Linked DNA regions of Homo sapiens: region 2 is linked to region 1. The links come from fine-mapping of genetic effects on gene expression. A gene starts in region 1. The other region holds a variant in brackets. All regions are shown on one strand. Distances are from middle to middle.

Evidence for each region.
Region 2: its variant is fine-mapped to the expression of SLC25A24 in monocytes after R848 (Quach 2016, PIP 0.95).

The regions. Positions count from the first base shown.
Region 1 is chr1:108,199,244-108,202,155 of GRCh38, forward strand. It overlaps SLC25A24 (solute carrier family 25 member 24), which reads right to left and starts at 1,100. Exons shown (of 10, transcript NM_013386.5): 1 at 713-1,100. The coding sequence starts at 895. RefSeq lists a silencer at 884-1,223 and an enhancer at 1,024-1,318.
Region 2 is chr1:108,151,241-108,154,152 of GRCh38, forward strand. All of the region lies in intron 6 of SLC25A24 (solute carrier family 25 member 24), which reads right to left. Among named protein-coding and RNA genes, the nearest start is that of SLC25A24, 48 kb to the right of the region's middle. The variant G/C (reference allele first, on the strand shown) is at 1,671.

The DNA.
Region 1 (2,912 bases):
AATGCCAGTGTCAGGGAACGCTTCAACAGGGTTGGAGAAGTTCCACATATCTCCACCCTACTAAAGGGGCAGAAGTTCAGGGGCACAGTTAAGATGACTCAGAGAAAATGAAATTGCTCAGTCGCAGGTCAAGTCAACCCTTCAGATCAATTTATGTACCTAGGGCATTAACCTAGGAATGTCTTAAACAATGGAATGCCGCCATTCCTTCTCAACAGGAAGTGGGGGAAACACGCGATTGGTTTTCAAACAGTTTTCAAACAGTAGACAATACACATAGCTGCTGTAACAAAGCAGCTTCGAAAGAGATCGAATGTGTGCGCCTTTATACAAAACTTGGGACCCACTGAAGTCTGACAGCTAAAACGGATTACATGTCTGCAAGGTATTAAAACAGAAAACAAAGAACCTGGGATGGATTCAGGACAAAAGTGTCTTAAAAATTTAACAGTGCCCGTGGGCCAGAGTGTCCACAACACTCATTTTATCTGGACAAATACCAGTAGACTTTCGTATTATGACCCACTTCTGTTACCGGGGTCGCCGGTCGCGGCCCCACGCCCGAGTTTCTGAAGCCACCGGAGCGCTGGGCGCCACAGTTCCTCCTTCCTCTCCTGGCAACGCCTCAAGCCGCCGCCCTCCTCGGTCCTCGCAGTGTCCCCAGCGCCCGCAGCCCTCCCTACGCTCAGGCGGCGCCCCGGCGGCGACCCACCTCCTCGGCGTCCTGGCCCAGAGGGATGCCCAGGTTCCTGAGCCCCTCCTGCAGCTCGCCGATGTCCACCACTCCGTCCCCATTGCGGTCCAGTGCCTGGAAGAGGGTCTCGTAGCGCGTCGGCTGCTCCGCGTCCTGGCAGGCCGCGGTGGGCAGCACGAAGTCCCGCAGCCAGCGCAACATGGTCCCAGAGGCGCAGGCGGCCTGGCCGAGGAAGTCACGGGAGATCGAGGGCTGCGGGGCGAGACCGGGACCAGCGCGAGGCCGGGCTGGGCGGGGCGCGCGGCGCAACAGCGTTTGGGGCGCCGTCGGGGTTGCGGCTGCGGCGCGCAGGGCGCAGGGCGCAGGAGCGGAGACCCCACCCGAGCCCGCGCGGAGCGCAGGGTGTGGCCGTCCCGCCGCTGCTGGGGAGGAGCTCGCCGCGCTGGCCTCGGCGGCACTGGCCGGGCCCGCCTCCAGAGAGCCGGAAGTGAGGGAGCTGGGAGCTGGGTCTCGGGAGGTGCTGTGCGGACCCGGGGTCGACCTCTGCCCAGTTGCCAGTCCCGCTGTCAGCATGCGGGTCCGAGGAAGAGGCCCCCAGCAGGTCCAGGGCTGCAGCGTCAGCGCGTCGGTGGCTTGGGAGCGGGGTCTTGAAGACTGGTTACTCCACTTAAAGACCCTCTCGGGCCGGAGCCTTGGCGGTCAGCCCAGAGCTGCTTCTCTCTGCCTGGAAACTGGGCCATGGAGGGCATTGTCTCTCACGGATGTCTAATTTTTTCGTGGTTGCACACCTGGGATGGCGATTCTGCTTTAAAAAGCAGAGAGTTAAATCCTAAAGCATCTATTGGAGCAATTATAAAACAAAAAGGAGAAACTCCTGGATTTGTTGCAGAAAAGATCAACAGCCATCTGCGTGGGCAACGGGGAAAAGAAGGACTAGTTTGGTAGGCAGCTTAGCTAGGATTTGCCCGTGATTAAGCGTATAGAGTGTCTGCCAGCTGCACTTATCAGAAAAAACCACAGCGCCCTCCTCCTTCTCAAGATGGGTGCAGTTCCGAGGTTTGGAGCTTATTACTCAGGCAAGACAGAACTTATTACTGCCTAGCATGGAATAACGGAAGGAACATTGGACTTAACAGAGAAAGTACCTAATCCTTCAGGTGTGACATAGCGTCTCCGGGTAGTCTCTCATCAGTAAAATGAGAATATAAATATCTGCCTTCACAACAAAGTTGTATATTAGGTGTGAAAGGTCTTAATTCTCTAAGGCGCCAATCAAATGAGATATCATTAATTGTAATAATCCTGTTCATTCACAGCTGCGTAAGAGGAACTATTGTTGTACTGCTGTTTGCAGAAAAGAAGATACCTCTGTACTTGTAAATTAGGGTGTCTCACATCTTCTGAATCACTACACAGAAATCAGTTCCAACAACAGCCAGGAACTCAGACCCTGAACTTACCTCTCCTCATATCATTTTGTATGTTTAAGATATGTATGAATCTAGAATTTGTAAATTAAGGGCTGCCTGCTTAGTAAAATCATCTTGAAACTGATTTATCTTTTTATATTACTTCCAACTTCCAGTCTTATTAAGAATCATTGCCTTCCTTTGGAACTGCCTTCAAACTTCAAATTTTCTCTGTCCTTGAAAACCTCTTTTAATCTCTACTCTGAATACTCTGTACTTGAAGAGAGGTTGCTTGAACTAGTCATCTTACACTTACATGCTTTCATTTTACTTTTTATTTATTTCTTTTTTTTTTTTTTTTTTCTTTGAGACAGTCTAGCTCTGTCGCCCAGGCTGGAATGCAGTGGCACAATCTCAACTCACTGCAACCTCCGCCTCCTGGGTTCAAGCTATTCTCCTGCCTCAGCCTCCTGAGTAGCTGGGGCTACAGGCTATTTTACTTTTTTAAAAAAGTAATACTTAGAAAAATTACCTGTCAGCGTTTTTGCTGAGAAAATTATCTTCACACCAAAACTTTTACTTGAGGGTTTATAGCAGTTCTATTCATAACTGTCAAGCGCAGAAACAAAATGTTCTTTAACGGGTGAACTGGTAAACAACCTGTGTTGCATTCATACAGTGAGATAGTAATTAGCAATAAAAAGGAATGAATTACTGATACCTGTCAACAATGACATTCTGGAAAAGGCAAAACTATAGGGACAGAAAACAAATCAGTAGTTACCAGTTGTGACTAGCGGGAAGGGAAT
Region 2 (2,912 bases), 48 kb before region 1:
CAAAAAAACAAATCCCCTCCACCCAACATCTTTCTTATCTATCACCCTCTCCCTCTTCTAGTTTCCTTCTCTTCACTGTCAAACTCCCTAAAAATGTGTCTCTACTGTCCAAGTTTCTTCACCTCCCATTCACTTTAAGCTCATTTCAGCATGGTTTCTCATTTCATTACTTCACAGAAGCATTTATACTAAGCTTACCTATCTCTGGGTTGAGAAATCCTAAAAGATATTCTTATTATATTCACTACCCAGTAGTACTGACCCCCATGAAACCGTTTCCTTCCACTGACTCCTATGCCATCCCTCTCTCTGGATTTTCTCCCATCCCTCGAGCTATTTCTTCTCAGTGTCCTTTGCAAGTTTCTTCTTTTACTTCTCCCTTTGGACTTATTCCTAGAATTCTTCTCATTTATAAGCTCTTCTTGAGTGATCCTGCCCATTCCAATGGCTCAACTCAGCAACAACCTCTCTATCAAAGATCTCTCTCTTAATGGCTAGCTGATATACCCAATTGCTTACTGGACAGCTCCCTGTACATGTCCCACACATCTCAAACTCAGCATGCACAAAATGGAACCTGATATTGTATTCTCTTTGAATGCAGTCACTCAAGTTAGAAATTAGAATATCATTCTTGACTCTTCTCTTTCTCACCTCCATATCCAGTCAGTCAGTGAGTTCTGTTGATTCTACTTCCAAAATATTTCTCAGTTCATTCCCTTCTCCATTCCTTAAAGACATCACCTTATACTGGTGTTCATCATTTCTTACCTCAATTATTTAAATATTCTCCCTGCCTCTAGTCTACCTCACTCTCCCCCAACAATGTCTCCACTCTTTTTTCAGGTTGATATTCCTTAAATGTGAATGTACTCATTTCACTTCCCTATATAAGATGCTACAATAGCCCCTACCATATTCAGAATAAAATCCAGACTCCTATTACATTTGGCCCCTGTTTATCTGTCCAGCTCTTTCATCATTATCTTTCCGGAAACACACTCCACCAGTCTTGAGGCACAGTGAACCACCTTCAGTCTCTTCAGTGAGTGATGCCTTCTTGTGCCTACATTTCTGTCCACATGCTGCTCCTTCTGTTTCCAATCCTTATCTTCCCCTTTATTTATTTATTTATTTTTTTTTTGAGACAAGGTCTCATTCTATCACCCAGGCTAGATTGCAATGGTGTGATCCCAGCTCACTGCAACCTCTGCCTCTCGAGCTCAAGTGATCCTCCCACCTCAGCATCCTGAGTACAGGCACACACCCCCACGCCCAACTAATTTTTATATTTTTTGTAGAAATGGGGTTTTGCCACGTTGCCCAGGCTGGTCTTGAACTCCTGGGCTCAAGCAAACTACCTCCTAAAGTGCTGGGATTAGAGGCGTGAGCCACCACGCCCGGCTCCCCTTCATCTTAATGGCTTGAGATTGAGGCAAGCTTGAGCTCTAATTCCAGTCTGTCAGTTCTGTCTTTTCATTTACTTAATAAGGGTTTCCTGGCACTGGGCAAGGTGCTAAGAATACAAGTAGCTACTGCCTAAGGAAGCTCACAGTCTCACAAAGCAGATAAGTACAGAGAACGTCAGAATTCAATGTGAAAGTGCTGTAACAAAAGGAAACTAGAACAGAAGGCTTCCCAGAGGAACTAACTCCTGAGTAAGTACTAAA[G/C]GGCATTTCCCACCATATGACATATAGAAAGAGGAAGGGTGTCTGTCTGTGTTGCTGGAGCAGGGTCAGGAGACAGGGAGTAGCAGAAAGATGACCATGCATGGTGGCCATATTGAGTGGGAGGCACTCCTGGGTCATGCAAGCAGAGATGCTGAAACACACAGTACACAGGTAGACCTACAGTGTTGAGATAAAGAGGAAGATGTTGGAGTGGAAAGCAGTCAGTACAGAGATGGCAGCTGAAACCACAAGAACACTACCCCACACTATTACACTGTCAATGATACAATGACACTACTATGGTAATGACAACCCACAGAGAACACAGGTTTACCCCATACTGATGATGTGTTTGACAGAGCTACATACCAGGTTGAAAAGATCTTTTTCTTAGTTTCCTAAAGTACTAGCTATTCAAGGAACAAAATCTATCTGAATCTAAAAGTGACCTAGTTACATACTCTGGGAAATTTGAGAATATATACAGCCTATTTACCCCGAAGTAATTTACAATCCACTGGGAAAACAATGGGTTTTCCATCATCCAATGAAAAATGGGATATTCTGCAATTCAGCACTCGAGGGAGGCTGGACAGGGGAGGAACTGGCTTTGATTGAGATGCTTAGTATATGCTTGTCACAGGAAGGTGGCTTTTAGAGAGCCCCGAGGGATGAATGGACCTTCAGCAGGAGGAGAGAAAACAGCACCATAGGTCCAGAGCCCATAAGAACACTACACCACACTGTGTAGACAGCTTTCTCTTCATGTCTAAGAAAGTTAGTGTGCAGAAATCACAATACTATAAAGAGGTCTCAGGAAGGAGCTTGGGTGGACAGAAGCAGAGGATGCCTGTTGGTGGTATCCAAGGTAAGAATCTGACAAATGGCATAAAGCAAAATGTGCATATTTGCTTGCAATACCCATGGACTTTTTCAAAAATACCAAACTTCTTGCATACTGAAATAACTGCATTGAGTATTTATTTATTTTAGGCTGTGGCTTTCCTATCATAAAATCCAAGTATGTGGTCAGAATAACCTAAGGGTATCTCAAACATTAGCCCTTAATAATCATGATTTGAATCTTCAAACCTTCATATAAGGAAAATAGCCTTCCCAAGGATAGGTTCTAATTAAAATCCTGGAGACTAGATTTTCTTTAATTTTTTTTTTTTTTTTGCTTCTCTATTTCCTAGGCAAAGAAAAGGATACCACTGGACTTCGTAAACTTCTCAAGAGTAT